4 separate regions of the Homo sapiens genome follow, and regions 2, 3 and 4 are each linked to region 1. The links come from fine-mapping of genetic effects on gene expression. A gene starts in region 1. Each other region holds a variant in brackets. All regions are shown on one strand. Distances are between the middles of the regions.

Region 1 (8,109 bases):
GTGTGCCAAGGATGAAAGCATTCTTAAGAGAAGTCATTCTCAGGGTGAAGTGGGGGTGGGGAGGAAAGCCTTAAGGAATAATGTTTGAGATCCTGAGCCAACGCCCAACTTGACAGAGAATGGCCAACACTACAGGATCCAAGCCCCTGGATCCAAGCCTTTGAGGGGCCCCTGTGCCAACTCCAGTGGCTAAGATTGGTGGCACAGCTTCCTCTGGTATAGGATCAGAAGTGAATCTAAATTGCAGTGTGCTTTCTTCCCTCCCCCACCCCAGATCCACCATGACTTGTTTGCTCTTCATTTATGTAATTCATATTTATCACATTTATACTGCTCTAACTGAAGATGAGTTGCATGTATATGAATAATTTAATTCTTCCATTCTTCACCCAGTTTCCTCTGTGACTGGAAAGTGAAAAGAACACACAAAAACTGGAGAAACGACACCACGCTCTAATCTCAGTTGCCATGACAGCAGCCTTTTAGATACTGAAATGTTCCGATTGCCAGCTAAACAAAATTGTTGAATGTGAACATTTGGCTGGAAGATTAAAAGGCTAAGGGGAATGCAAAAGGGCAGTACCTCCCACATTCCAAGCAGCCAGTGAATCCAATCAAATGGCTCTGACTCCTTAACCACAGCCATTGTGAGCACTGGATTAGGGCAATTCATCTAGATAGTTAAAGCAGATTAGAACTGCAATTTGAAGACTATTGGCAACAAAAGTAAATGCCCTACTGTACTAAGTAATAAGAAGATTTCAGAACACCTTTTAGCGGAAATAATGTGAAACTACACATTTAAATATAAGACTCAAAACCCGGAATTTTCAAAAATTCATTTATATTCATTAATGTACCTGACCAAGAGGATATGAATTTATAAGCGTTTGGAGGCATTTTGCAAATTTGGCATTATCTACACCTTAATGTGCCTCTATCAACTTTTAAAAATCAAAACTTTACTCCTATACTCCAACTTAAATCCTGAACACAAAAACAAGAATATAAAAGTTTAAGTAGCAGTGAACCATTTTACACAGAAATAATTCTCCAAAGACATATTATCACCACTTACAATCCCAATCGCCAACTATAGCAAAAAAAAATCAAAATTATTTAATAAGGATGTTCCCCAACAACCATGCCACAACCCACATGACAGAAAGCTTGCTTCTGCAAGGCACAACCTGTAGAATTAATATGAAGATTAATTTCATAGAAATATCACACACACACCCCTAACTCCTTCCCAACCTGCCTAGTGGACAGAACACCTTCTGTTCCCAAACATTAGTCAATGTGGTCTATGACTAAGCAGCAAAACATGGTGTGGGTGTCGGGGCAGGCAGTTCTTCCAAGGCAGTGTCTAACTATAGACTTGTACAAAGAAGGGGAGAAGGGTCCAAATGGTCTAAATCAACCATCCACACCGTTTAAATGCAGCACATAATTCTATATTCCAATTCACTCAACCGTCTACATCCCCTTTGGCTACATTTTCACATTTCACGAGTATCAGTCCAGCAAGTCTGTTTTATTCTTCTTAGCAGCCGTCCAGCTCCCCAGTCAGGTATCCAAGTGATAACACTCTTAAATCTCTAGCTAAGAACTGGGTGAGGGAACAGGGGTAGAGTGCTAACAGCCACCAAAACCATCGAGTTTTTCTGCAGTTATGAAACCAATGACCCAACACATCAAGCTTGGGGTTTCATTCAGGACCAATAACAAGAACTCATTCAAGGATATCCTTTCACAGTACTATTTTGGAGACAGTAAGAAAAAATAAAAGGGATGAGGTCTGTAGAATGTAAATTCGAATCCTCGACATTCCTCTCCAGGGAGGGAACTTGAACCTTGCACCTAAGGACACATTACCCGCAATACTAGGATGAATAAATTAAAATAGAAAACTGTTCCCCTTAAGGAAGAAAGCAGGACAAGAGTCAAGAGGGTGCATGAGCAGGTTTTCTATTAAAAGCACACGGCAACCTGCTGACTAGTGAGGAACCGATCTACAGGGCAAAAGGTACTTAGAACACTCAGGCCCTCCCACCTGGGAACCCAAACACTAGCATCACAAGCAGCAGCAGCAGCAGCAGCAGCAGCAAGGACAGCAGAAGCAAGAGCCAAACACTGCACCCAAGTAGGCTCCCCCATATCAAATTTTAATATAAAGGATGCATATCATAGAAATCTCACAAAGAACCAGAAAGCATAAAGTGTAAGGCACACAGAGGCACACCCCCACACACCCACACAAATGCACACAGAGGAGAGTAGGACATCTAGGAAGGCGACTTTATCCTACCTTCTCAGTTTTCAGTTTCTTGATTCGCCTGTGGCTCTCCTCCTCCTCCTCTTCCTTCTTTACCAACATAGAGTTTCCCATGAGCCCTGAATCCGGGGCACTTTTGCTAACTTCCCCTGCAGCGGCGACGCTGCCACTCCCAGTGCCCCCGCAGTGGAAGGGGCTCGCGCCACCTCCATTGCTCTTGGCCCCAAAGCCATAGAGGTGCCCCCCGGAAGGGGCCTGGCTGCCACTGCCATTCTGGTGGCCCTGAAGCAGGTCGTGCTTGTCCTTCCTGGATTTCCCCGCATCCTTATCCCGCTTGGCGCCTCGGCTGCTCTGGCTTTTACCTGGCTTCTCCTCTTTGCTTTTCCCACAGGAGCCTGCCCCCGCGGTGGCGGCAGAGGTGCTGGTGCTGGTACTATTGCTGTTTGGGTTGCCGCTGCCGCCGCTGCTCACACTTTGACCCAGCGCTGAATTCATGCCAGTTGCCTCTCCAGGGCGCCCTTGGACTTCCTGCCTCTTGCCAGTGCTGCTGATCTCGGGAATCCCATACAAGGCAGCAGAAGGCAGAGATTTATTAGCATCCTTAGAAGTTTTACTCCTTTTCACTTTTGATTTGCTGGTCTCTTTGTGTGAATTCCCCTGGGGAGCAGAGGCCTGAACAGAAGCAAATTTTAGGCCATCAGCTAAGGCTGCGGTAGCACCAGCCCCACTGGAGGCCGGACCTCCACAATCCTTGGAGTTGCTGCTACTAGTGGTGGTGGTGGAATTATTCATCTCAAATTTCTGTCTGTCCTTCTCCAAATCAGCGTCCAAATCAATTATTAAATTTCCAACCCCGATTTCCCAATCATCGCCACTGTCATAAGTATCAACTGTATTTGGATCCACACCTTTTCCTGCAGTAGAAATGTTCACTGACATCCTGAAGATGAGCTCTCTAGAATAAAAATCCGATGAACTTTTCTTTGGAGATGAGGGGACATTCGTTTATCTCCGCTGGGCTTTCTCTCAAAGAAAAAAAAAATCTTCTAATCTTCCTCTTCTTTTTCCTGCCCCACGAATGTGTCCAGGGATTTTACACCCTCAGTCCAGGTCCACCTTTTCCTGTGAAGGGGGGGGGAAAAGTCGAATATTTCTTGTCTGGGTGTTACCAGAATAAAAAACGATTAGTATTGGGGAATCAGTAAAGGGGACAGGGAAGGATGGAGAGTAAGGTGGCTCATGTATTGTCCTCACAGTCCAATATCAGGTTTAAAGGAAAATAACCAAACCCGAAAAATAAACCTATGACAGTAAGCATCTTACGGTAGCTAAAAAGAAAATCCCTTTATCAACAACACAAGGATAATCACCTTTTTAAAAGCATTAAATTATCTTAAGGATCTGATTCAAGTCCAGAAAGGTTTTTGTGTTCTTTTTTAAAGTTTAGGATTTCAGTCTGGCACATGTGATATCTCAACCCCAGAAACACAGCCTGAACACTCAGACAAGAAGGAAGAACACAGCTTTAAACATCCCTAAACATGTCCTAGATCTTGCAATTTAGAAGACCAGACCCTGGAAGTTCTGAGGCTAGTTTTCAGAATAGAATGTTGCTAAATTTTCCTTATTTCTAATTTAGGTTTCAGTACTTCTTTTTACAAATTGTCTGGGCAATCTGTTTTTTGTTCCTAGTAAGGAACAGAAAAAACAACCAATAACTGCCCCCAACACACACACATACCTCCCTCCTATCCTCTTTTCCCAAACAGCTTCTACAATTTCTTTTTTGAAATATGCATGTCTTTTAAGAGCATTTCTCTCTAGAAAAGACAGTGTTATATAAAAAGTTAAATACCTGCCTTTTGAGAAAAAAATACATTTAAACAATTCTACCATATTCCTAGGTCAGAGAATTGCTCACTCTCTTAAATACGGTGCTACTGACTGTACAGAAAACTGATTAAGACATACACTTTAAGTGATCTGCGCCAAGGTGGCCTCAATGACCGCAAATGAGTGTGTTTGACAAAGAGCAGTTAAAACGGTTTTTAAAGGGATCAGCCCCTTTTTAACAGTTGATTGTCAAGAAAAAAATAAATAAATATACATACACACACACATACACACACACAGACATTGCTTACCTTTTAATCCTTTATCATTTTTTAATTAGGCCAGCAAATCAAAATGCCTTTCCCACTCCACTCGGCAAACAAGCCTGTGCCTCATTTTACTTAAACACCAAATGATCAAGAAGGAAGAAACCAAATAACACATCTCAGCCAGAATAATCACTCGATAACATTATTCCACCTCCCCACCCCCCTTTTGGCAAACGAATCAGTCCTTTTCTCCTTAAAAAAAATGTGTCACTGTACAGCTGGAAAATAATGTTTCACATTCACAACAGAAGCACCAAAGGTTTTTTTTTCCTCTTAACAAGCATCGAGAATAATAGTTTTTTAAAAAACAGAGAGTTTAGAGAAAAAAGTTTTCCCAACTTCTCATTCCGCCTTCAGTTCCAGACTTCAGAGTCACCGTGATCAGTAATGATCCCATGTAGCAAACCTACAGGCGTCCGCTAGTAACGAGACAGAATGTGCTAACATCGGGATAAATTAGTGAAAGGGAAGAAAGAATAAGAAGAAAGGACTGAAAATCTGGGCTGGATTCCGCCTGTTAGTCGGGAAGTGGCATTTTTCCGCCCGTCCTGACAGATTTGATTTCTTGAACTAACTTAAGAGAAAAGGAGGGGGGGAGTAGAGGGAGGAGGAGGAGAAGAAAGGGTGGGATGAGAAACTGGGCAAGAGGAGAAAAAGAAAGGTGTGGAGGAGGAGACAGCAGATGATTCAGTGAGCTGATAAACCAGTTATAACAGCATTCGCTCGGGGCGGGGGGCGGGGGGCTTGGGGCGGTGGGGTGGGGAAAATAACGGCGTTTAAAATGGGCTCAGTCTTCGAAACCTAAAGGATGTGATGTTTTCCTGTCTTATGTTGTTTTAAGAAAAAGGAACTGAGTTCCTAGTATAGCTCCCGAGGGGAGTGGAATCCTCTGTCGCTCAGGTCAGCCAGTCATGTGGTAATTCGATAATTAGAGTCAAAATAAGGTTTTTGTTTTCTTTTTTTTTTTTTTTAAGGCGACCCTTTTCGGGAGTTTTTCCCTCTTATACTCGCAGCAAACGGTGTGTCTCCCTTTTATTTATTTTTTCTCTCCTCTCCCTTCGCCCAGCCCCTCCTGTGTTTAGTCAGATGGCCCCGGAGCTTGGCTTAGTATTTTTAATTAGCTGGCGTTTGGAAGCTAAAAGCAGTAATGAATTGTTGATGGATTGGAAGTGGAGAGTCGCTTTGCTGGAAATGTCGGGGCTGGGAGAGGGGGATGGGCGAGTTAGTAACAACCAACCATCTAAAAGGAGCGATTTTGTTACAGTGCAAGCCTTTCACATCACGTGAGGATCAAGGGCTCAATTGGTTGTCGTGAGAACAAAAATGGTGACAAGCGTATCAAGAAAATACTGATCTGGTCTTTAAAAAAAAAAAAGCTGAAAGTCTCTCCCCTCCCCCTGCACACACTCCCCCAACCTCCTCCCCCCGCCCCCCCGCAGTGGGCGAAGCTACAAGTTATGAATGTGAAACATTTCTCGGAGATCTAGGATCTCCGAAGTTCGGAAGGAGCGAAATGTAATGAGCACAAGAGCAAAGCAGATGTTTTAAAGAAACACTTTATAAACCTTTCCTCAACTTATCTCCAATTTGTCGGCTTTCCCAAGGGGCCAGGGACGGGGACGCCTGGGGGAGGGAGAAGGGTATCTCCGAGCTACTTGGATTTTAGGGACCCCCACTTCATGTATTAAACAAAGAAAAACCTTTTGCTTGCTCCCCAGCCTGGTCCTGTAATAAATACACCATTGTTACTATTTGTGGGTTTGTTTGGGTTGGGTGGGGCTTTTATTTTTTCTCTTAATGGTATTTTTGTTGCTTGCTTTTTTAAGGAGATGGCGAATGGTAATTATAACCATTACATGTAATGAGTGACTATTCCCTTGTTTAATATTAAATTATCGGGCACTGGGATCTGACAGGAGACAGAAATCGGCTTGTTCTGCCCTTGCCCCCATTTTCCTGGATCGCTTTGGGAGGGGGGTCTGCCCAGCTAGGACAGAAGAGGGAGGGAGTAAGGTGAGCTAGAGAATTGACACTGCAGACCAGGATATGCAACTGTGTCACTTTTATTCTCCTTTGGGTTAGAGCCCAAAAGCTAATTTCCTCTAAGTTACCCCGAGTGCCCAGTCAAGCTTAATTTGTGTGAAGTTACAAATGCTTCACCCTCCACTGAATAAAATTCACCCTTCTTGGGTTGTTGTTCTAAATGCAAAAGCCAAACCCTGTAACTAGTTCCTCATTTCTATGCATAAAACTCGCACATTCCCCTGCATGAAGTCCCCGCTAAGTGCTATATAGAGACACACCACGCAACCGTACTTACGGTCTGTATTGGATCGAGTTGACCTTTTCCTTCTAACTGCATTGAATGTGTTTGGTTGCAGCCGCTTTATTTTGGAAATTATAATCTCTTCAACAAATTTATTATTAAAGAAGATGGACCATCAAATGTCACAGACCGTCCTGTGTATTTTTTATAAAAGCAAAAATTAAAATTTAAAAAAAGCAAAACAAAAATCCCCCTGGTGCACACACACAACAAGCTTGTTCTGCAACACTAAATCAGGACTGAAACACAACACACACACAGGGGGAGTGGAGCAAAAGAAGCTCTCAGCCTCTATACCTGAAAGGGACTTTTCTTTGTTCCCAGTGCCCTTTCGCATCGGGCCAATCAGAGAGCAGCTTTTATGAAACTGGGCTCTCTCATTGGCTAGCTGCTTTCTCTTGGCTACTGTAGGGGGTTGAGATATACACACGTATAAAACACACACTGAGAGCGGGTGGGGGTGCTGTGGGGGGTGGTTGTGGAGACAAAGCGTTTTATTTTCCAACCAGATTGGGGTTGAGGAACCTCCCGCAGTAAGAAGGCAAAAAAATGGTGCGCCCCTTTCAATTACTACATCATTCACATAAAACACTTATTTATTAAAACAAATCTCAAACAGGCTGCGAGGAGAGGATGTCGGTAAATACAAGTTTGATTGTGTTATCTTGGGGGAAATAATGTATGTGATCGCTCGGTGGCAGAGAGAAGCCAAACGAGCCGCTAGCGCGTAGCGAAGAGAAAAGGGAGGCTGGCTGTGTGGAACTGACTGCGAGCATTTTGCCGGCTTCCCTTCCTTGTTCCAAGGACTTCGCAGCCCAACTCCCAAGACTGATTTTCTGTATTGCAGCTTCTGGCTTTCAACCCTCCCCCCACCACTTTGCCCTTCCTGCAGTTTTTTTTTTTTTTCTTCCCTGTGTCTCTCTTTTTACTCGCTGATTAAATAAGAAAAATCGATCTGCGGGTAAAGGCGATGGTGGGGAAACAAGTAACCCTTTTGTTTCCAGGGCTCTGGTCTACAGGCACTGAAGTGTGAACGCAGGCGACCATTTAACCAACACTATGTGAATGGTTCTTCCCTGGAATTAGTAACAAATCTTTTCCACCTGGTGTTATGTGACTCCAAAAAAGAAAAACTTAATATTAAAATAAGGCCCCAGCTAAACATAGTAACACCTCGGGCCAGCCTCATCTTTTAAAAAATCGACTTATGAAAGTTAAATGTACTAGGAAGATTAACTGTTAAACAGTCCCAGTACACGTATTTAAACTGTGGAAGGGTCAGAATTCCTCTTCCCCCATATCTTTAACCCCACTGGTGGGGAAGGGGGCATCATGAATCCTCT
Region 2 (8,109 bases), 86 kb after region 1:
AGAAATAATTACATAATGTTAATGGACCACGAAATTTCTAAAATCCTCTAAAGTTTCACCTAGATGATTTTGGTACTTATCTCTGGTAGGGATGCCCTGCTCTTTTTCTATATCAGAGGGATTTTATTGAGTTTCCTCTTTTTTTTTTTTTTTTGGTTCAGGTATGATGATAGGGCTGGCCTGAACCAGCTTGTTCATTAGTAATTTCTCCAGTGGGAGAAATCTGTAGGGCTACTACGTAGACCAGGAGCATGCCAACTAGTGCAATGGATTGTTCCTACGAACTGATTTTCCATTTTTAGGATTTTGGTGAGCTGATTGTTAAACACAGTCATTCTTCAAAATTAGATTATGCAAGTTTTAAATTAAATAAATGATGTTAAAACAAAGATAATATATTAAAATCGACCACCTCTTAATTATTTCCATGTTCTTGAGGTTATCTCCATCTATTGTAAGTGTATGATAGAAATGTAATATAATGGTGTACTGCTTCATCTTTCCCCAACTCTGTGTGCAATGACATTGCCTTGGTAGCTTGAAACTGACCATCATAGATGGGAAATCAGCAACACAAAAACTCGAACTGTCTATCCTCCCACACTGTAAACATCTATCCTTTCTTGTCCCCAAGGGCTGTTAGCATTTACCAGCACATTTAACAGCTTTCTATTTAAAGCTAATGGGACAAAAAAAACAAAACAAGCAAAACCACACACACACACACACAAACCCCCAGGATATCTAAGCCCTATGACTGTAACCTCTCCTACCCATACTACTGAATATAGTTAGTAGGTATTATCATTACACAACTCTATTTATAGAAACTATCCATTCATCCATCCCTTCATTTATTCAATATCTACTTAGTGTTGTTATGTAAAGTGTTGTGCTAAGCATTGCTGTAATGGGGGTGGGAGGTAAGTAGATACTATACAACTCAACAAAGAAACTGTTGAGTAATGGAAAGAACACGAGCTTTGGATTCAGAAGGATCTGGCATATGAATACAACCAGTTAGAGTGACCAAGAACTCTGCATTGGAACATTTGGTCATGCTGCAACTATAATACTGAACAGTTTTGAAAACTTGGGCTAGTTACTTTGCATCTCTGAAACAGTTTTACCATGTGCGGGAAAAAGCCATTTTTTAAGAGCCTTTGTGAGGATTAGGATTATATATGGGCACCCTGTTTAGGACAGTGCCTACATAGGTAGGCAGTTAGGACAGTGCCTTACATATGTAATATGCTCAATGAATGAGAGCTTTCAGAATTAGTCACAATAAAATCCAATATAAAATAGGCAAAGAACACTTTTGCAGGAGTTGAGATATAAGGTTTTTTTCTTGTTTTTTGGGTTTTTTTTTTTGAGACAGAGTCTTGCTCTGTTGCCAGGCTGGAGTGCAGTGGCGCAATCTCGGCTCACTGCAACCTCCACCTCCTGGGTTCAAGCGAGTCTCCTGCCTCAGCCTCCTGAGTATCTGGGACTACAAGCGCCCACCACCATGCCCAGATAATTTTTAGAGACGGAGTTTCACCATGTTGGCCAGGATGGTCTCGATCTCTTGACCTCATGATCGCCCACCTCAGCCTGTATCTTGCCCATTATCAAACTATTTCTTGCTGCCATATTCTTTTCTAGTATTTGACATCTTGATTTTCAGAACCTGGTCAATCTTACCATAAAAACCTAGCTGCCATTTCACACCTCTGCTCTGACTGGCTCAAGGCCTGCTCTTCTTTAATGCCTATAGCTGGGCAGAATGAAGCAGGTATTTAAATACTGATCTCTAAATATTTTAATAGAATGATGTATGTGTTCAGCTTATCTATTAGTGGGGTAAATTGTAATGCGAGAAGAGAAAATCAAGTTACAATACCTACATTGCAGATTTTCAGTGAGGCTTAAAAGGCATGAAAAATTCCCTAATGTTAGTAAATACTCAAGAAATGCTGGTTAATATTTCTACTTCTGGTCAATTGCTTTCCAAGTCGAAACAGCTGATAAAATTCTATACATTATACATTATGTTATTCATATTATGAAAATGTTAAGTCTTTCATTTCACAATATTATTAGCCAAGAGAATAAAGGTTTGTAGTGACTTAAAGATCTTGAAAAGCGACATACTGTTTTGTTTAAGAGGGAGGAAAAAGTCCACATAGAAGGTGATTAAAAAATACCCACATTGATCATCAATCAAACCATAAAGGGAATATAAGAAGAGCATCACTCGGCCGGGCATGGTGGCTCACACCTGTAACCCCAGCACTTTGGGAGGCCGAGGAACATGGATCACAAGGTCAGGAGATCGAGACCATCCTGGCTAATACAGTGAAACCCCATCTCTAGTAAAAATACAAAAAGTTAGCCAGGCGTGGTGGTGGGCGCGTGTAGTCCCAGCTACTCGGCAGGCTGAGGCAGGAGAATGGCATGAACCCGGGAGGCAGAGCGTGCAGTGAGCCGAGATCGCGCCACTGCACTCTAGCCTGGGTAACAGAGTGAGACTCCATCTCAAATTAAAAAAAAAAGAAAAAAAAGAGAAAAGCATCCCTATTGTTTGGAAGCCTTTTGCATAGTAGGTAAAAATATAATTTTGAATAGATATTAAAATTAGACACATGCAAACATTGATCTCACTGTTGAGGAAGTGGCTTCAAGAAAAGCTTAAATTGTTCACCTTCCCCTTCCTTCAGGGGAATTACTCTTATTATTCTTATTTTGTGTCTTGATACCATAATGCTGTGATCATAGATGCTGAATGATCACTCCTTTTTGGGGAAAAATGTGAGGAAACTGAATGGCTCCCTGGAGAAACCCTTTGGTGACAGGTAGCAAATCTGGTGTCTTAGCCTCCAAAGTAGCCCCCAGTCATCTTCACCTCCTGGTGTCCACACTTTTGTGTAGTTTCCTCTCCCATTGAATCACAGCTGCTCAGCATGGCTAATTAAGTATGGCAAAAGTGATGGTGTATGATTTCTGAACCTAGGTAATGAAGGGTGGGTTTTTAGATAAAATACAGTATATCCAATTAACTTTGAATTTCAGATAATAAAAATTTAGTGTGTGTCCCAAATATTGCATGTGTCATGCTTATACTAACACTTCATTTATTATTTACCTGAAATTCAAATTTAACTGGGTGTTATGTAGTTTTATTTGTGAAACCTGGCAGCCCTATAAAGGGCATTTTGGCTTCCACCTTCTTCTTTTAAATTGCTGTTTATGTTGTGAGGACACTCAAATAGACTTGTGGATAGACCCAGTGTGGAGAGGAGCTGAGGCTTCCTACCACTAGCCAGCAGCGATCTGCTGCCTATGTGAGACGGCAACCTTGGGACCACTGTTATGGCTCAGATATCTCTTTATGTAACACAATTTGTCTCTTACTTCTTGTTTGTTTGATTATATCCTTAGTGGCTACTCTAGCCTGTGGGTTCCACTAGAACAGTTATATGAGTTTTGCTCCCCATTGTGCCCAAGTGCTTAGTACACCACAGTGCCAGGCACTTGATTGGTTTCAGTTTTGTAAAATGATGTAAAATGTGCTCTGAGCCTCACTGTCTTCATCTATAAGAAGGGATAAAAATGGTATCCACCTTATAGGGCTGGTGTGAAGATTAAATGAGTTAATATGCTTAGAAATGTGCCTGGTACATAAGTTCCAAGGCTCAGTACACATGGGAAGAAGCTTCCTTCTCAATAATTAGCTTGCAATAGAATCACCTGGAGGTCTGGTTAAAACTCTAATTACTCTGATTACTGGGCCTCAACCTCCTGAGATTTTGATTAAGTAGGTCTGGGAGTGGCCAGGTGATGCTGACACTGCTAATTTTGGGACTGAGCCTCTGCTTTAGCTTAATGCTTTCCATGACTGTGACCATGCTGTGAGAGTGCCTTCTCATTTCTGTTTATAAATGATTTGTGTTGGCTGGGTGCAGACCTCAGCTCCAGCAGAGCTGTCAAGAGTGTGAAGTCTGATTTCTCTTAACTCAAGCAGGCATAGAAGTCTCTGATTTATTTCTGGCTATAATCAATACCTCTAGGCTAAGGGATGATCTTAGCCAGCAGGAAGTCTAAAATAGTAGAAAGATAGCAGCCTCTGTTCTAAATTCAGAGGTGAGCTCTGTTCAACTACTGCCATTTTTGCTGGCTCCTGGGCCCTGATCTTAGCCTGTTTGAAGTGCTAAATATATACATTCAGCTGAAGTCCTCACTGTACTCCAGTGTGGGGGGAAATTTCCTAGTAAATAATCCTGTAGTGGATCAGACACAAATGTTTTGTGGCCTCCTAATTGGCACAAGTTTAAAGTATTAAAGAGAACCTACAAGCATTTCCTATCATTAAACCCCTTTCCAGGTCACAAACATCTCCCAAAGTAGTGTAGGAGAGAAAAACTTTTCCTCTACTGTCTTCAGTTATTTGCTTGAGGCCTATAATTAAACTAATAAAAGATCAACAGGAGAAAAGGTATACACATTTTGTGAACATTTTTACTTGCATAGGGGCTTCACAGAAAAGAAATGAAAACCCAAAGAGGTGGTTAGACCTGGTGACTTATATACCATTTTAACAAAGGGTGATAAATTGTGGAGAAATGACTAAACAAAGGAAAAAGGGATTTGGGATCCTAAGTGTGATAAATTGTGAAAGTGACTAGGAAATGTAGATAAGTTTTGTTTTGTAAAGTTTGTTATGCAGACTTGGGTTGTCTCTGGTGATAAGAATTGTCTCTGGAGTTGCTCCCTTTTTCCTTGTAGAAAGAAGGGAACATCTTTACAAAGGAAATCTATGCCCTGCTTTTAGACAGAAAGGGGGAGGGCAGAGAGCTCTTCCTGTTTCTGCTGTTTCTCAATTGCCTTCAACTAAAAATAATCCTTACGCTAAAGTAGCATATTTGGGTTAGCATATTCTGATCCCTTTCAGCAGTATTTCTCAAACTAACCAACTT[T/C]CTTCCTTCCTTCCTTCTCTTTTCTTTTCTTCCTTCCTTTTTCTGTGTTTTCAAACAGGGTCTCCCTTTGTCACCCAGGCTGGAGTGCAGTAGTATGATCTAGGCTCACTGTAGCATTGATCTCCTGAGCTCAAGCAGTTATCCCACATCAGCCTCTTGAGTAGCTAGGGCTACAGGTGCATGCTAGTCCATCTGGCTAATTTTTAATATTTTTTTAGAGATGGGGTTTCACCATGTCGCTCAGGCTGGTTTAGAACTCCTGGGCTCAAGGAGTCTTCCCTGCCTGGGCCTTTCAAAGTGCTGGGATTTCAGGCATGAGCCATGATGTCTGGCAAGACTTTTATGTTCATACAAATCACCTGAAGTTTTTGTTAAAATACTGACTCTGATTCAGTAGATCTGGGCTGGAGCCTTGACATTCCACATTTCTAAGAAGCTCCTTAGTGGTACCATATCAAGGAAGGTTTTGAGCCTCATTACAGAGCAACTGAACATGAATTTAGCGGGAGTAGAGTGCAGGTGCCAGGCACCAAGTATTAGACCCTGCTACACAGTGAGGGTTGAGGATCACTGCTCTACATTCAGATGCTTGATGTCATTGTTTATTTTTGCCAGTGTACACTTCCACCATCCATGTAGCCTAGCCTGTACTACTTTTTTATTCCTACAGGACCCAGGACAAATGGAATCTTTGCCTTCCTAAGCCCTACAGGCACCTATTTTAAATTCAAGCAAACATCAACATCAAGGGAGCCAAGCACTACACAAACTGTATATTTGGAAAGAAAATGGTGTATTTATTGCTTATGCCCTTAAAGGAAAAATGGGACAAACCATTTGAAATCAGAAGGTACTAAAAATTACGAGATATGCAGTCCCCACACTGTGTTCCCTGCAATTTGGCCACAGGAATTCTCTGAGTGGCCTTTGCTTAGCTCCATCTCTGGGTAGGATGGGCCTTTGGCCATCCATGTTACACTTTGATCCTGACTCAGCTCTTATCTTTTCTATACATTTAAGTCCCTTCAGAGGTTCAAGTCTACTCTAGGTTAATACCTCAGGCCTTTCAGGCACATAAGTAATATTTTTAAAAAAAGCATCCTCATATACAGAAAATTTCCCCCAAATTTATCCTTCTTTGTAACATATCTATGATCTCACATTTAAATGTTATCACACTTACAGCAAAGGCAATGCTAAGAGGAAAGTTCGTAGCCTTAAATGTCTTCATCAAAAAGTCTGAAAGAGCACAAACAGGCAATCTAAGGTCATGGCTCAAGGAACTAGAGAAACAAACAAACCAAACCCAAACCCAGCAGAAGAAAGGGAATAACCAAGATCAGAGCAGAACTAAATGAAATTGAAACAAACAAACAAACAAAAAACAAAGACAAATGAAACAAAAAACTTGTTCTTTGAAAAATATAAATAAAATTGATAGACCATTAGCAAGATTAACCAAGGAAAGAAGAGAGAAGATCTAAATAAGCTCAGTTAGAAATGAAATGAGAGATATTACAACTGATACCACAGAAATACAGATCATTCAAGGCTACTATGAACACTTTTTCACATATAAACTAGAAAACCTAGAGGAGATGGATAAATTCCTGGAAAGATACAACCCTCTTAGCTTAAATCAGAAAGAATTAGAAGCCCTGAACAGACCAATAACAAGCAGAGAGATTGAAGTAGTAATAAAAATATTACCAACAACAACAACAAAAAGTCCTGGACCAGATGGATTCACAGCTGAATTCTACCAGACATTCAAAGAATTGGTACCAATTCTATTGACACTATTCCACAAGATAGAGAAAGAGGGAATCCTCCCTAAATAATTTTATGAAGCCAGTACCACCCTAATACACAAACCAGGGAAGGACATAACAAAAAAAGAAAACTACAGACTAATGTCTCTGATGAACATAGATGCAAAAATCCTCAACAAAATACTAGTTAACTGAATCCAACAGCATATCAAAAAGGTAATCTACCATGATCAAGTGGGTTTCATATCATGAATGCAGGGATGATTTAACATGCACAAGTCAATAAATGTGATACACCACATAAACAGAATTAGAAAAAAAATCACATGGTCATCTCAATAGAGGCAGAAAAAGCATTTGACAAAGTCCAGCATCACTTTATGATTAAAACCTTCAGCAAAATCAGCATACAAAGGACATACCTCAATGTAATAAAAGCCATCTATGACAAACCCCCACAGCCAACATAACACTGAATGGAGAAAAGTTGAAAGCATTCCCTGTGAAAACTGGAACGAGACAAGGATGCTCACTCTCACCACTTCTATTCAATATAGTACTGAAATTCCTAGCCAGAGCAATCAGACAAGAGAAAGAAATGGCATCAAATCAGTAAAGAGAAAGTCAAATTGTCACTGTTTGCAGATGATCTCATTGTATACCTAGAAAACCCTAAAGACTCCTCCAGAAAGCTCCTGGAATTGATAAATGAATTCAGCAAAGTTTCAGGATATAAAATTAATGTACACAAATCACTAGCTCTGCTGCACACCAACAGCAACCAAGCTGAGAATGAAATCAAGAACTCAATCCCTTTATGATAGCTGCAAAAAAATAAAATAAAATACTTAGGAATATACTTAACCAAGGAGGTGAAAGACCTGTACGAGGAAAACTACAAAACACTGCTGAAAGAAATCATAGATGACACAAATGGAAACACATCCATGCTCATGGATGGATAGAATCAATATTGTGAAAATGACCATACTGCCAAAAGCAATCTACAGATTCAATGCAATTCCCATCAAAATACCACCATCATTCTTCACCAAAAAAAAAAAAAAAAAAAAAAAAAAAAAAAATCTTAAAATTCATATGGAACCTAAAAAGAGCCTGCATAGCTAAAGCAAGACTAAGCAAAAAGGGCTGGGTGCGGTGGCTCACGCCTGTAATCCCATCACTTTGGGAGGCTGAGGTGGGCAGATCACCTAAGGTCAGGAGTTTGAAACCAGCCTGGCCAACATGATGAGCCCCTGTGTCTACTGAAAATACAAAAATTAGCCAGGCATGGTGGCAGGTGCTTGTAATCCCAGCTACTAGAGAGGCTGAGGCAGGAGAATCACTTGAACCCCAGGAGGCTTTGGTTTCAATGAGCC
Region 3 (8,109 bases), 150 kb before region 1:
TACAGGTGCATGCCACCACTCCCAGCTAATTTTTTGTATTTTTAGTAGAGGCAGGGTTTCACCGTATTAGCCAAGATGGTCTTGATCTCCTGACCTTGTGATCCACCCACCTTGGCCTCCCAAAGTGCTCGGATTACAGGTGTGAGCCACTGCGCCTGGCCTTTTTTTTTTTTTTTTTTTTTTTTTGAGATGGTATCTCACTCTGTTGCCCAGGCTTGAGTGCAGTGGCGCAATCTTGGCTTACTGCAACCTCTGCCTCCTGGGTTCAAGCAGTTCTCCTGCCTCAGCCTCCCCAGTAGCTGGGACTACAGGCGCCCACCCACCATGCCCTGCTAATTTTTATATTTTTAGTAGAGACAGGGTTTCACCATGTTGGCCAGGCTGGTCTCGAACTCCTGACCTCAGGTGATCCACCTGTCTCGGCTTCCCAAAGTGCTGCGATTACAGGCGTGAGCCACCACACCCAGCCAAGGAGAAAGTTTTAGTTTGGCACTGGTATGCGGTTGCCACCTCTCTAACCCTGACATCTCTTTCAGAAAAAGAGAACAGGCCTCAAACTCAGATCCTTTTTAGCATTTAAAGTCTAAACTCCATTGTTTTGTCTCCACAGTTTTGAATGGAGTCTCCTATTTATAGCATGGGATATCTTGTTTCCTTCTATAATACATTTATTTAAATTAAAATGTAGGTCAACTTTTTTTAAGATTTGGTAAATTTTAGAAAAGTGGGTTCACAGATAACCCAAGTGGGTGAAGCACTGCTTGAAAGATATATTTTTTAAATTGTTTATCTCTAAACCCTGGTGAACATCTTTGGCCTGGAGCTTTGCATGCACAATCCATGGATCAACAGTAGTCAAGCTAGCACTAGTTCTGGAAAAGGGGTGAGGAGCAGGAAGAAGGAAGCAGTCTAGACAGTGATGCCAAAAACCAAAAAACCCAAAAACCCACGAGTTTCATAAACACACAAGTCCCCCATAAATCAACTCAAATACCCAGGCATGCCTCACTCACCCCTACCTCACAGACTGCTCTGTGGCCTGTCTCAGATCATTGCTTTACCTGATTTCACCGGAGTAAATGCTCAGCTGTGGAAGGGGCAGACCACATGACTCATCCTAGACAAACAGCCTCTGAAGATTTGGACCTCACTTTTCCTAACCATGACTCAACATATTGAAGCTCATTATTTGTATTTATCTTTGAGCTATGTTTGAAATGGAGATCACAGCCTCAATTTGGTGATCTTAAATGTTAGCAGAAACTAATCTAAATTCCTAGCGTTAGGAATTCCTGGGGAAATCAAACCAGGGAAATTACATGACACATGGCCAAGAATGTATGTAAGAAGTAATTACGCTGAAATTCCTTTGTTATCTATTAATATCAACTGCATGGCACTGTGTCAGCATGGGGATAAACAAGTGGCCCTGCTGGTTCAATTGTTCAATTCTTTCATTCGAAAGGAGATAAGACAAAACAATAGATTCCTCTTTGGGGAGAAATGGCCTCTTATTTTTGTGGTAAACAAAATAGCTTTTTGGATAAGTCCTTTCATCATTTGATCCATTGACGGCTGAGGTTAGAATTTCAAGATATTTATCCTGAACAGAAGTGGTAGGAGAGAAAAATAGCAGATGTAGAGTAAAAGGTGGTTCCAAATGTTAGGAATGAGATTTACAAGGGAGCAGGGTTAGAGCCAAAAGAAGTAAAAGTAAGGCAAGAGGACTAGAAATGAAGCTACCCAGGCTGACTGTCTTCAGGTAAAGATTAAAGGAGCTTAGACACTACCATAAGTCATTTAAATAATTGCACAAGAAGTAATTATTAAATACATTTTATTTGATTAATAAATATGTACAGATATATAAAATTGGTGCATGCTTAATTCTTCAAACCAGTCTTTTAGACTTTGCATTAATGGGATGCTCTAGCTAGTCTCTAAGAATAAAGCCGGTAGAATCCATGGTCATAATCCTGTCTGGTCTGCCAAAGACCTGGGTAACCCCAGTAACACTGACAACACAGCCAGGGAAGAAGTGGACTGCCACTTGCTACTTTGACATTTCAAATTTTATATTTTCAATAAAAACTGTGCTGTTGGCCGGGCACGGTGGCTCACGGCTGTAATCCCAGAATTTTGGGGGCTGACGTGGGTGAACTGCTTGAGCTCACAAGTTTGAGAACAGCCTGGGCAATGTAGCAAAACCCCACATGTCTACAAAAGATACAAAAATTAGCCGGGCATGCTGGTGCACACCTGTAGTCCCAGCTACTCAGGAGGCTGAGGTGGGAGGATGGTTTGAGCCCGGGAGGTGGAGGTTGAAGTGAGCCAAGATTGTGCCACTACACTCCAGCCTGGGTGATAGAGCCAGACCTTGTCTCAAAAACAAAACAAAACAACAACAACAAAACTGTGCTGTCATGGTTTTTGGAAAATATATTCACATACCACATGAGAATATATTTGAGATAAGTCAAAAGATCTTACTTATTTAAAGTAAGCCAATGGAAACCTTTCTTTCTTTGTTACCAATAAAGCTGCAGTAGAATAACTTCTAAATACAGACTAAATATACTTAAATATCATCCATATTATTATAAAGTTAAAATGAAGTTATATAAATAGTAATAAATACAACAAAGACAGTGACCAAGAAATTGATCATTTCTTATATGAGCTAGCAAGCATATCTCAAAGTCCTACACTGTACACTATAATTTGAATTTATTCCTCTGTAAAAAGTCATAATCCCACATTCCAGAGGTTTAAACTCCCCAAATCTGAGTGAGCAAATACCATGTAGTGAGGCTATTCTATACTTTCATAAATTTGATTTAAAAATTATATGTTAATATTTATGGTAAACTGTGCAATGAGGCAATGTAGATATCTATGCATAACCACAACTATAAAAGGGTAAGTCTGAGTCTTTTTTATTTGTTGACATATTTAAAGTGATTTTCATATGTTCAGATTTCACAAATATTGAATTTTACAAATGGAAATTACCTTGGAGATCCTCCTTGAAAAGACAGAAATCCAATAAAGTATAATTGTTAGACCTGGGAAACACCCTAGCTGGTATGCTACGCATTAGATATCTGACTTTGAGCAAAGTTCTTAGTTTGCTGAGATTCCATAGGAAACAGCAAAGCTAACTGTATTTACCTTTCAGGGCTTTTTTGAGGGTATGATGGAGTATTGCGTGTCAAGCTTGTAACACTGCCTGGCACAGAATACGGGCTTAATAAACACAAGCTGTTGTCATCAGTATCATCAACAATAGCTTCGTTAACCTAGAAAGGTTAAGTGAGGACTTGACCATGATCAAACAGCTGTAATAGTAAATGGCAGAGTTAGGGCTTGCATTAAGGTTTCCTGAATTTTCATACAGTGCTATTCCCACTAAACCACAACTGCCACTGATGTTTCATCCAGTTTTTAAGATCACATTTTTAAAAGACTGATTAATGTGGTGTACCCTGCAGCTTCTGTTCAGCTTCATTTCAACTTTTCAGTGAAGCCACGGGAACCGTGTGTGATGTGAGATGAAACTGCAGTTGAACGGGGTCTTTAAGCCCGTTAGAGAAATTTCTCTTGTGTTCCATTAGTTTAATTATGACATAGTTAAACAGACGCTGAGAAATTTCAAACCTGGGAACATTTGCCCACAGAGGCACGCAGGCCCTGGCAGTAGCTCTTAATCACATTCCTCAGTCAGGTGTCAAGCAGAACAGAGGCACAAGCACACAAGCAAGTTTTGTTTAGTATACCTCAAAAAGCCAGCCAAGTGGCAAATGT[G/A]GACATCTGTTCTAGACTGTGGCTGTCCTGTTTTTTCAGTCTAATCTGTCAAGATAACCATTTCCCCATTCTCTTAAACAAACACAGACTTCCTTGTTTAAACACTATAACAGTTCTAACAGAACACACAGCTTTTAATCATTCTGTGTTAAGTACACTGGCAAGAGTCTGAGAAAAGAATCAAAACATCTTAAATGTAAACTGGCTGATTTTGCTACTTTGCAAATCCCAGGAAACAGAAAAAAGAAACCTGAAATTCCAGATAAAAGGAGTACAACATTGTAGGAGAGACTGCAGTGAATTTTACATTTTTAATTGAATTGGAAATGCAATTGTGAACCCAGTTCAGCTTCTAATGAAAAGAGCGATCTGATCATGTTTTATTTTTTCTTCGAAGTTTTGCAAATTTAAGTTCATTTGTTCCAATGGTTTTGTATATATTTATAAAGGCAACACTAACGCTTGAGCAGAGTGATATTTTCAGGAAAGCTATTTAAACACAGAGCAAAGTTACTTCTCTACTAACTCTCTTGAAAGCCCTTTAGCATAAAGCTCTGTCATAGTGCAGAGCACATTTTTTTCCATATAATATTTGAGAATAAAAATGTGAAGGGTGGGGAGAAAACCTGTCACGGTGGAATAAGCAGGAATATTGACAACACTGAAGTTCGGGTGTGCTTCCTGAGCCTCGATACTTACTCTTCATTTCACTTGCAAAATATCCAGGCTCACCCTGAGATATGAAAAAGTTAAAATTTACATAAAACCTGTTATGTTTTCTACTTGGAGAAAAATGAGGGTTAAATAATCCAAACTCCGCTCGTGGCTCACGCCTGTAATCCCAGCACTTTGGGAGGCTGAGGCGGGAGGATCACTTGAGCCCAGGAGTTCAAGACCAGCCCTGGCAGTATAACGAGACCCCTGTCTCTACAGAAAATTTTAAAAATTAGCTGGGCACAGTGGTGAGCACCTGTAATTCCAGCTACTCAGGAAGCTGAGGTGGGAGGGTGGCTTGAGCCTGGGAGTTTGAGGCTGCGGTGAACTATGATTGCACTACTGCACTTCAGCCTGGGTGACAGGGAGACACTCTGTCTCTAAAAACATAAAAATAAAAATAAAATAATAATTCAAATTCTACATTGTCCATGCTTGAGTGTGGTTCATGGACAGGTTTTCATCCCAACCAACTTAAGGTCATATCCCGGTTCTATGACTTAATTGTGACTGTACACAAGTTAATAAACTTCTCTGAGCCTTTTCTATGAAATGAGGATAAAAAAGTATCTTACAGAGTTCTTGAGAAGATGAAAGAAGACACATTTGCAATGGTAAGTGCTTGATAAAGTTAGTACTTTTTTTTTTGAGATGGAGTCTCGCTCTGTCACCCAGGCTGGAGTGCAATGGTGCGATCTTGGCTCACTGCAACCTCCACTTCCCGGGTTCAAGCAATTCTCCTGCTTCAGCCTCCCGAGTAGTTGGGATTACAGGCACCCACCACCACACTCAGCTAATTTGTGTATTTTTAGAAGAGATGGGGTTTCGCCATGTTGGTCAGGCTGGTCTCGAACTCCCAACCTCAGGTGATCCACCAACTTCAGCCTCCCAAAGTGCTGGGATTACAGGTGTGAGCCACCGTGCCTGGCAAAGTTAGCACTTTATTTTATTTTATTTTATTTTATTTTTGAGATGGAGTCTCACTCTGTCGCCCAGGCTGGAGTGCAGTGGCACAATCTCGGCTCACTGCAAGCTCTGCCTCCTGGGTTCACGCCATTCTCCTGCCTCAGCCTCCTGAATCACCGGGACTACCGGCGCCCACCACCACGCCCAGCTAATTTTTGTATTTTTAGTAGAGACGGGGTTTCACCGTGTTAGCCAGGATGGTCTCGATCTCCTGACCTCGTGATCCACCCACCTCAGCCTCCCAAGGTGCTGGGACTACAGGCGTGAGCCACTGTGCCTGGCCAGTACTTATTATTAAGCAGAATATCCATTAACACCTGTCAAAATTGGACAAAGTCCCAACTGACATAAAATTCAGGTTTAATAAAGATTATATACAACATATGAATTACCAACTTCATAAAATTAGAAAATAATTTAACAGTCAAAAACTAAACCTGTTTAAGAGATTTAATGCCAGGAGTGTAAGTCTCATGTCCAATTCCTTAGGTGAATAAGTGGCCAGAATTTGCACAATTTTCACAGTCATCCTAACACCGCTAGCTGGGCCACAGTGGGACACAAGTGGGACCCCAGTCTAAAAACTCTGGCGTTTGGCTGCCTTGTAGACTGTGGTCCAACCACAGATGGCTTGACGGCACTAGTAGATTGGGACTGGCTGGCCAGTCAAATCTTCCACTTGAATGACAAAGTCAATCTTGACAGCAGTGGTAGCAAAGACCAACGGAAGCTTAGTTTCCATAATGGCAAAGTTCAGGAGTTGGGAGCAACAGGGTCCTGTGCTGAGGAGCCAAGGAGAAACTAGAAAAGAGGTAAAAATTCTGGTCCTCCAGGAGCTGGGGCAGTGTGGGAAATGGATTGTTTTTAATCATTCTTCATTTCCTTTTGAATCCTTACAATATATAGCCTAATTGAAGTAGCCTGGATATATATTAGTTGTTTTGCAACCTGAAAGAGTCTACCAGATCATTTTATCTTTGATGATTCGGAACACACTTGAAGATCTCAAAACACTTGAGGGTCAGAATTGTTTGCATCAGTTATCACGTAAGTATAGATGTCTAATTACTTCCTCTTGAGATTTTATGTCTATATTCTGATAGCTGCTACTAAGCGGTAGATCAGGACACTAATTGGGGTCTCTTGGGTCCAACCTATATACTTGATTTAAACAAATATTTATTAAGAAACTGCTATATGTAAGGCACACTGATAAATATTGTGAGCAGTTAACAAATAAATAAGAAGTTTCTCTGCCATCAAGAATATTACAACTTAATGGTATTTGACAAGTTCACAAGTACTATGAGATAGAATGTGATAAATGCTTTAAGAGAGAAGCAAAACTTTCACCATGATCCAGAGGAGGAAGAAATTACAGGCACTTGGGAGGAGAAACATGTCAGGAATCAGGAAAAGCTGTGGGAGGGCATGACTCTAAACACCTTGAAATCCAAGTGAAATTTTGACAGGAAAGGTGAAACCCATGATAGGGAGCAGGAAGAAGTATTGTTTGAGGAATAGCAAGAATCACTGATTGGCTGCTGTGTAGAGAACTTCTAGTAAGAGATAAAGATGGAAGGAAGCTTAAGGCCAGAAAATGAAGGACTTCAAGTGTCAGAATAAGGAATTCAGAATTTATTTAGTAAGTAATGGAGTCTGGTGAGGGTTTTGAGCAGGAAATGATACAATCAGCTGAGTTGGAGGCTGACACATGCTTCCACACTTGAATAACTTTTCTATAAAAGTATGACTTTATCAAAATCTTTATGAATAAAATAACACATACCTATAAAATATGAAGAGGCAATAGAAACACAATAGAGACTAAGACTGTAAATAGTATAACATCTAGGCATAATGTGTTATCCAATTTGCCTTATCAGAGAAAGATGTCAATTTTCTCTCCTAATAATCACTTGAAGCTGATTTCGCAACCATTATTCTCTTCTTCACAGAGCATGGAAAAAACTGGTCCTTCATCAGCTTCTCTCCCTAAGTTGCAGGATAAAGTAGTTATAAAGATTAGGAGCTAGATTGCCTTGAAACTGGAATTTTCATTCATAATTGGCTCAGCCCTTTTGGAGAGCAATCTGGCATGTGTATTAAAAGCTATGGATTAGCCATACCCATTAACCCAGTGTATCCACTTGCAGGTCTCTAGCCTCAGGACATTTTTAAAACAAGGAGAAAGTAATGTGAATTAATATAATCCAATATTATATAGTATAGGAACATATATGGCAATATGATTCACATAATATATAGTAATAAGATAGTATAGTTTACTTATATATATGTAAAAATCAATAAAAACTTAAATTTAAAAAAATAGGAAGACCTCTGTATATAAATGATGAACCATCTATTTCATGAACTGTTATACAGCTGTTTTAAATAATAATTATGAAAACTGGATTTAAAAAATCCAGCAATATGTCTAAGTATTAAAAAAAAGCATGATTACAAATCTATGTAAAAACAGATTTATACAAAAGAGACTTGATGACAACATATATTTTTTAAAAATACCAATTGTGTTGGAATAATTTTATTAAGGGGATGGGTTTTTTCCCTCATTTTGTTTTCCAAAATGCTATTATGTTGTCATAACTATCAAAGAGT
Region 4 (8,109 bases), 110 kb after region 1:
CCTATGTCTTTTAAAGTGGCTAATGAGTATTTAAATATTTGAGGGAAGTGTACACTTTTGTGTGTGTGCGTGTTGTGTGCTCCCTCATTTTAACTGGTTTTTAAAATTACAGCCCATTAATGGCCTGTCCCTGATGCACATAATTAAAGGATTCCTCCATTAGGGCTTTTCTTTTCTTTTCTTTTTTTGAGACAAAGTTTTGCTGTTGCCTAAGCTGGAGTGCATTGGCTCAATCATAGCTCACTGTAACCTCAAACTCCTGGGCTCAGGTGATCCTCCTGCCTCAGCCTCCTGAGTAGCTGGGACTACAGTCACACACCACTGCACCCCACTAATTTTTTTTTTAAGTAGAGACAAGGTCTCACTATGTTTTCCAGGCTGGTCTCAGACTCCTGGCCTCCAGCCATCCCAAAGTACTACTCTCCCAAAGTGCTGGGATTACAGACATGAGCCACCGGGCCTCTAGGACTTCTTGTTCTCTGGTGTTTTCAGAGCTTTGCTCCTTGGCTCTCTCCACCTGTAAGAGTCTTCCCCCAATTTTGGCCTTAGTGATGCTTGCTCCTGTTTCAAGATTCAGGAAGTGTTATGTTTGATTCTCCTTCCAGTTCAGGTTTACGAGATCAGTTTACCTGTCGTAGCCTTGTCACCAATTCTGTTATCTTTGGTATTTTACCTGACTTGCTGGTAGACCAGGATGTCCCTTGAAGGCAGAGTCCCCGTGTCCCTGGCACCTTAACCCAGGGCCTGGCATTTAGTAGATACTCAATGTTTGTTCAATGCACAGTGCACCCAGAAAAAAATAGTTAAATAAAATGATTATAATTCATTTCTGATACATTTTTGTTAACTTTTATCATAAAAAATGGCACTGTAAACTTAACAAGTGCCTGGCAATGATGAAGACTGGGTGAGAGATATTGAAAATGTGGGCTACTGAGTCATACTAAAGCAACTATCTCTCCTAACCAACTTTCTCAAAGGAATTTTTTTAAAGGCAGGTGTTTTTCATTTGATCTTATCAGGAAAATAAAGAACAAACAATAATCATGAAATTTAATGAGAATTTCTTTCTTAAAGCATGATCTTTTTTGTGCCTTGCTGAGCAGTGGAAGTTGAGTTCTCTCTTCTTGTTCCCTCTCTTCCTCTATGTATCTGGACTTCTTTTTGCACAGAGGGGACTCTTTTTTTCCTAGTGGTATTTTCACTCTTTTGTCCAAGCCCTTGATCAGTTCTCAGAGTTGGAGGCACCTGTGGTTCCAGATAAATCATAAAGCCACAATGCTGTCAGTGGCTCAGCACACCAAGCTCTCCTGTCTCAGGATTTCCCACACGCTGCTCCCTCTGCTCAGCTTTTCCTCATAGTTTGCTCCCTGTTTTCATGAGTTTGCACATTAGTGGGAAAAAACAGACAATAAGTAAATGAAACACAATATATCGTATGGTACAGAAAATGAAAGCCGAGTGGGGGCCTGAGAGTGCTGGTGGGACGCTCCTCATTTATACAGATTGGCAGGAAAGGCGGACCTGGCAAAGTGACATTTCAGTAGAGTCTGTGTTAAGTGAAGGGGACACTCTGCAGACATCTGGGGGAAGAGCTTTGTTGGAGGAGGCGCCACAATTTGGAAGGCCCTGAGAAAGGGTCAGTCTCGGTCTTTTGAAGAACAACAAAGAGGCCGGTGTGGCAGAAACACAGTGGTTGGAGATGAGGGCAGAGAGATAGCAGGACGTCAGGTCTTCTAGGGCCTTGAAGGCCATGAAAGGACTTTAATCTTTACACTACAAGTTCAAGCAGGGGAAGGAAATTACCTCCCATGAGCTGGGCGCAGTGGTCCATTCTTGTAATTCTAGAACTTTGGGAGGCCGAGGTGGGTGGATCACTTGAGGTCAGGAGTTCGAGACCAGCCTGGCCAAAATGGTGAAAACCCATCTCTAGGAAAATACAAAAAACTTAGCCAGGTGTGGTGGTGCATACCTGTAATCCCAGCTACTCGGGAGGCTGAGGTGGAAGGATCATTTGAACCCGGGAGGCGAGGTTGCAGTGAGCTGAGATTGCGCCAGTGTACTCCAGCCTGGATGACAGAGCAAGACTCTGTCTCAAAAAAAGAGAAACTACCTCCCATGCATTTTGGGAGGCTCCCTCTGGCTGCTATATGGAAATGAACTAGTTGGGGATAAGGATGTGAATCAGAAAATCTGCTTCAAAGGCTCTTGCCATGGTCCTGGCAATAGAACGAAGGGATCATGGATGATGCCACTACAAGAGAAGGTGGCAAGAGGTATCTGGTTCTATTTCCTGGTATGGTCTTCCCTGACCAAGCATGTTCCTCCCATACACTCATTCATAACACCTGTTTTGTTTTGTTTTCCTACAACAGTGGTTCCTACTTACATTTTTGAGTGGCACTCGGTTGATATCCCTTACTCTTCCCCTACAAGTAAATATATAAACAACATGAGGGCAAGGATCATGTTTGTTTTGTTAATCATTTCATCTCCAGCACCTAGTCAGTACCTGGCACATAGAACGTATTTAATAAATATTTTTGAACAAAAGGAAACAGAGTCAGTTCATGGTCAGCTAGTGGTTGCATCTGAGTATTAAGAGAATGAATGTCCAGCCAACCACTGGATTGAGAAAGAGGAGAAGTTGAGATTGCCAGAGAGCTGACACTAAATTTAAAATAAATCAGGGCCAGGCGTGGTGGCTCACACCTGTAATCCCAGCACTTTGGGAGGCCAAGGCAGGCGAATCACCTGAGGTCAGGAGTTTGAGACCAGCCTGGCCAACATGGAGAAACGCCATCTCTACTAAAATATGAAAATTAGCTGGGTGTAGTGGTGTGCACGTGTAATCCCAGCTACTTGGGGGGCTGAGGCAAGAGAATTGCTTGAACCCGGGAGGTGGAGGTTGCAGTGAGCCGAGATCACACCACTATACTCCAGCCTAGGTGACAGAGCAAGACTATCTCAAAAAATACTAATAAAATAAAATAAAATAAGCCAGAACAAATTTCGATAATTCTCTAGGTATTTTTTAAAATGCTGGTCCTTGATAGCATTTCTCAGTGTCTGGCATCATTTAGATATGGTCTGTCCCAGTATTCTGGCCTGTTGTAACCCCTGGGGCTTCTCTAATTTCAACACTGTGAGCTTTTAGGGAAGAGAGCAAGAGTGTTAATGCAAGAGCTATTTGGCATAGGAAATGGACAGAGTAGCCCTTGAACTGTTCTTGTTGTACAGGTCATTTTGTTATTAACGCTGATACTATGAAAGCTTTCATTTCTGGTGATTTCTTACCTGATAAGAACAAAATAAAATGATGCTCAGTGTGCCACTTCCCTTCATTGCCTCCAAATGTCCCAGGCTTCTCTTATAAATTTTTTTATGTGGTCTAGCTATAAAATTTGAGAAATGAAACTGAGAACTCCAGCAACTGCTTCTTGATTGGTCTCACATGGCGTGCATTGCTAGGTCTCTGTGCTGTTACAACCATTGCTGTCCCATCAGCTGTGTTTTCCTGAGGGTGGTTCAAGTCACAGTGCTGGTGATGTCACTCCTGTCCCCTCTGCTGAGATCGGCGTGGTTCCAGTAAGTGATGCGTATGGTAGCAATTTGCATCATGCTGTGTTATCCAAAACTTCTCTAATGTGCACTTTTTATAGCATCTCTGCTCTAAAATCCAGCACCACCAGCACTGCTTGTTTTAGAACTCTTTCTGAAGTCTGATCACACAGGAATAAGAATACACTCATGGATAGAAAATCCCTGACTGATATTGGCACCAGCTCTTTATTTGGAAAGGGGTTTGGTATATTGGATAATAAAGAGCACAAAAATTAAAATAAAAGCAAAACTCATTACTGTTCGTATCCACCATACCCTCAAAAGTCCTATTGCCTGACACAATGAATAGTATTCAAAATTGTAAGTTAAGGGCAATGCCAACCAATTTGGGGATCAGGCTTCTTTATGTCACTCCTTGTCCTGAAAAATCTCCAATGGCTTTTACAAAATGATGATATTAATGAATTTTAGGAATATGAGCTTGTGTGGCTTTCCCTTTTGAAAAATGTGTCAACTTCCCCATTCACAGACTGAAAGGCTTAGCAAAGTGCTTGTTAACAAATGTCTTAGTAATGGTAGATTTTCAATAGCATAAACTACGTGGTTTGACTAAATATGGATGAAACTATGCTTTTTAAGTTACATGTGAAATCAGCCACATTACTTCATCTAATATGCAGCCGTACCCAGTATGAGTATAAAAACATTCAATGATAATTACAATGGTAAAGATGATGGTGAAGGCTTTAGGGACATTGGGCAGCAGTCAAATCATTAACTGGAAATGGATACTATTTCAGAATCTTGAAAAAAAATACTGAAATGGAGTAAATAGGAGGCTCACTGGAGATATATTTAGGAAACAGAATTTGCTGCTTTCCAGTTAATGATGTGAGTCATGCCCAGTATCCCTAAGGTCATCAGCATCCTCCTCATCATTGTAATTATCTTTGAATTTCTCTCAAACTCACACTGAGCATGGAGGGCTGGTAGGTGCTTTGGTGCCTTCTATGGTTCTAAATCGTGGCTTATTTAGAGGTTGTTAACAGTATCATCTGGTTTTTAATTGGTCAGCAGTCAAAAACTTTAAAAATACTGAATCATCTCCCTGAGCAAAATTGGTGCTTTTCGGCTTCTGACTTGAGTTTACAGTGGGAATAATGTAAGAGCACATCTGAGTGGGAAGCTGTGGGGCTGGGATGAGTCAAAGGCCTCCCTCAATCCA[C/G]TTAGAGTTCTTCATCTCATCAGGGTGATTCGCCTGTCACTGTTCATATGGTGCCCGAGGCAAAGGGTTAGTACTGCTGATGGTGACATAGCCTATAGCAGCAGCGCAGCAATTACCTGGGAGTCACATTGTATTTGCAGTTTGTTTAGATGGATGGATGGAAGAGACTGCAGGTCAACATCAAGTTTTGTGGTCAGACTTGGCAAATACAGGAATAAAAATATGACCACAATGGTCATTTAAATATGAGCTACTGTAGTCTTCTGTCTATGCACCCTTAAATATGTGCTTCTGTTTATGAAGTTCTTACTCTACGGAACTACTTCAAGTCATTCTATTCCTAGAGGGAAATAAGTATCTAACATGATACTTATTTCCCTCTAGGTGAAGCTGGGTTTATTCAAGCATTATCAGCAACAGGGAGAGAGAAGAAAAATATTGTAAAGGAAATATAATAAAAGCCATCAGGGAAAGCTACTTAAGGATGAGTTTTTTTAAAAAATGTACTCAAATAATGAGATAAAAGGAAAAGTAGAGAGAAGAGAAAAATGGAAAGATGTACTGAAAACAGGAACGTGCAAAGAAAATATAAAGAAAATAATAGAGTGATAGCTGCAAAACCTGCCAAAGGTCTGCAGAAGGGAAAGGGGAGCAAAAAGACAACTAAATATATTGCATTATGCCATATGACCCAACGATTCCATTCCTAGGTATATACCAAAGATAACTGAAAACATGTCTACACAAAAACCTGTATGCAGATATTCACAGCAGGAGTATTCATAACAGCCCCAAACTGGAAACAACCCAAAGGCCTATCAACATATGAGTGAATTAGCAAAATGTGGTATACCCATACAATGGAATATTATTCAATGATGAAATGAAATGAAGTACTCGTACATGCAACAACATGGAAAAACCTTGAAAACATTATGCTAAGTGAAAGAAGCTACTCATGTATTGTAATTATTGTATTTTGTACATAATGTATTTATATGAAATGCCCAGAATAAGCAACTTTGTAGAGACAGAAAGTAGATTGGTGGTTCTCAGAGACTAGGGGGAGGAGGAAATGGAGAATGACTGCTTATGGGTATGGGATTTCTTTTTGGGATGATGAAAATGTTCTAAAATTAAACAGTTGTGATGACTGTACAACTCTGAATATACTAAAACCCACTAAATTGTATACTTTAAAATACTGAATTATGATACACATCTCAATAAAGTTGCCACTTAAAAAATATCCAGACTGCTGTGTTATTTCTTTTCCATTTTTTAGGGTCTTCTATAAGGATGGGCCCTAGCAGTATGCCTGAGGCATAGGTAGGGATGAGGCATGGGGGAGAAAAGAAGAAAAAAGAAAGAAAGGGGCTTAGAAGGATAATAAGAGACATTGGAAGATGGTAGATATAGAAGAAGAAACAATAGAAGAGAGAGTTTCAATTAGGTTTATTAAACTGCAAGGGACAGAGACTTACTCCAGTTAACTCAACAAAAGGGTTTATTGGTAAAGAAATACATGGAGAGACCTTGAAATGGCAAGACTTAGACACAAAGGCAGCTCTTGCAAGCAGCTCTGCCATCATCCTCATGGACTGTGTCATCTCACAAGATGTATCTACTTCTCCCTGTGTATCTGATGCATTTTTTCTCTAATATATGACTTTCTCTTTTCCCTCATAATTTCAGCTTGCATGTAACTTTGGCTTACAGTGTCCTTTCCAAACCTGACAATCTCATAGCATTCTTAGTACCATCTTTGCCCACTTCTTCGGTGGCTCCATGATTCATTAACAGTTTTCTGATTCTCATGTCCTGAGATAGGAGTCCAGTTAGTTCTGTTCACGTTTGCAATCCAAAACCTGGATCATAGGCCACTGGTCACCTAGCCAATCTGTAGACTGATCCTCCTTGGATTATGTGCCCATCTGTTCTCATTAGCTGAGAGCAGAACAGTGGCATTATCTGGTTCACAAAAGGCATAGTGGGTTGTAGGGAGGAAAGAAGGATGGCTGGGCTTGGTGGCTCAGTGGTCAGATGTAGTGGCTCATGCCTGTAATCTTAGCACTTTGGGAGGCCAATGTGGGTGGATCACTTGAGCCCAGCCTGGGCAACACAGGGAGACCTTATCTCTCCAAAAAACTTAAAAATTGGCTGATTGTGGTGGTATGTGCTTGTGGTCTCAGCTACTCAGGAGGCTCAGGTGGAAGGATTGCTTGAGCCTGTGGGGTAGAGGTTGCAGTGAGCGAAGATCATCCCATTGTACTCCAGTTTGGGTGACAGAGCAAGACCTTGTCTCTAAAAAGAAAAAAATATAAAAGGAAGAACGGGGGACAGTTTGCCAAATGACACCCTGCGTGGGCAGTGGAAAATCTTCCCACTACAGGGAGAAAAGTGGCATACAGAAGGGTGCAGTTGGAAACCTTGTCAACTGTCCCTGCCAACTGATAATAACTCTTGATAAACATGAAGTTCTTCCTCCATGCACCACTCAGAGGAAAATACTTATTGCCCATGTTAGTGCTTTAGTTTGGACCTTACTATTGTTTGAATATGATTTGTCCCCACGAAAATTCATGTTGAGGCTTGGTCCCCAGTGTGGCAGTGTTGGGAGGTGGTACCTTTAAAAGGCAATTAGGCGCCAGGCACGGTGGCTCACGCCTGTAATCTCAGCACTTCGGGAGACCGAGGCGGGCAGATCACGAGGTTAGGAGATGGAGACCATCCTGGCTAACATGGTGAAACCCCATCTCTACTAAAAATACCAAAAAAAAAAAAATTAGCTGGGCGTGGTGGCGGGCACCTGTAGTCCCAGCTATTTGGGAGGCTGAGGCAGGAGAATGGCATGAACCTGGGAGGTGGAGCTTGCAGTGAGCCGAGATCGCGCCACTGCACTCCCACCTGGGCAACAGAGCAAGACTCTGTCTCAAAAAAATAAAAAAACAAAAAAAACAGCAATTAGGTCATTAAGAGGTCTCAATGCCTTTGTCTCAAGAGTGAGTTCTCACTCTCAAGGGACTGGGTTAGTTACCAAGAATGCAGGTAGTTACAAAGTGAGGACACCTCTAATGTTTGCCCTTTTTGGCAAGTGCCTGCTTCCCTCCCCCCCCCTTTTTTTTTTTGAGACAGAGTTTGGCTCTTGTTGCCCAGGCTGGAGTACAATGGCACAATCTTGGCTCACAGCAACCTCTGCCTCCAAGGTTCAAGCGATTTTCCTGCCTCAGCCTCCCGAGAATAGCTGAGATGACAGGCATGTGCTACCACACCCAGCTAATTTTGTATTTTTAGTAGCAATGGGGTTTCTCCATGTTGGT

Alleles and levels. Alleles are on the strand shown, and positions count from the first base shown. SD is a standard deviation of normalised expression in the study named. Not every link is listed here.
In carriers of allele A in region 3, the expression in thyroid of the gene that starts at base 4,867 in region 1 tends to be higher than with G alone (moderate effect, 0.66 SD a copy in GTEx).
With allele C in place of G in region 4, the expression in whole blood of the gene that starts at base 4,867 in region 1 is lower (small effect, 0.28 SD a copy in GTEx).

The links.
Region 2: its variant is fine-mapped to the expression of ZNF608 in whole blood (TOPMed, PIP above 0.99).
Region 3: its variant is fine-mapped to the expression of ZNF608 in thyroid (GTEx, PIP above 0.99).
Region 4: its variant is fine-mapped to the expression of ZNF608 in whole blood (GTEx, PIP 0.96).

Annotation. Positions count from the first base shown.
Region 1 is chr5:124,741,773-124,749,881 of GRCh38, forward strand. ZNF608 (zinc finger protein 608) reads right to left here and starts at 4,867. Exons shown (of 10, transcript NM_020747.3): 1 at 4,423-4,867; 2 at 2,312-3,400. The coding sequence starts at 3,217. RefSeq lists enhancers at 381-1,075, 1,719-1,768, 2,159-2,238, 2,299-2,368, 2,466-3,159 and 4 more and a silencer at 6,985-7,224.
Region 2 is chr5:124,828,090-124,836,198 of GRCh38, forward strand. No RefSeq gene overlaps it. Among named protein-coding and RNA genes, the nearest start is that of ZNF608, 86 kb to the left of the region's middle. The variant T/C (reference allele first, on the strand shown) is at 4,959.
Region 3 is chr5:124,595,948-124,604,056 of GRCh38, forward strand. No RefSeq gene overlaps it. Among named protein-coding and RNA genes, the nearest start is that of ZNF608, 150 kb to the right of the region's middle. RefSeq lists a silencer at 3,542-3,756 and an enhancer at 3,860-3,919. The variant G/A (reference allele first, on the strand shown) is at 3,805.
Region 4 is chr5:124,855,665-124,863,773 of GRCh38, forward strand. No RefSeq gene overlaps it. Among named protein-coding and RNA genes, the nearest start is that of ZNF608, 110 kb to the left of the region's middle. The variant C/G (reference allele first, on the strand shown) is at 4,790.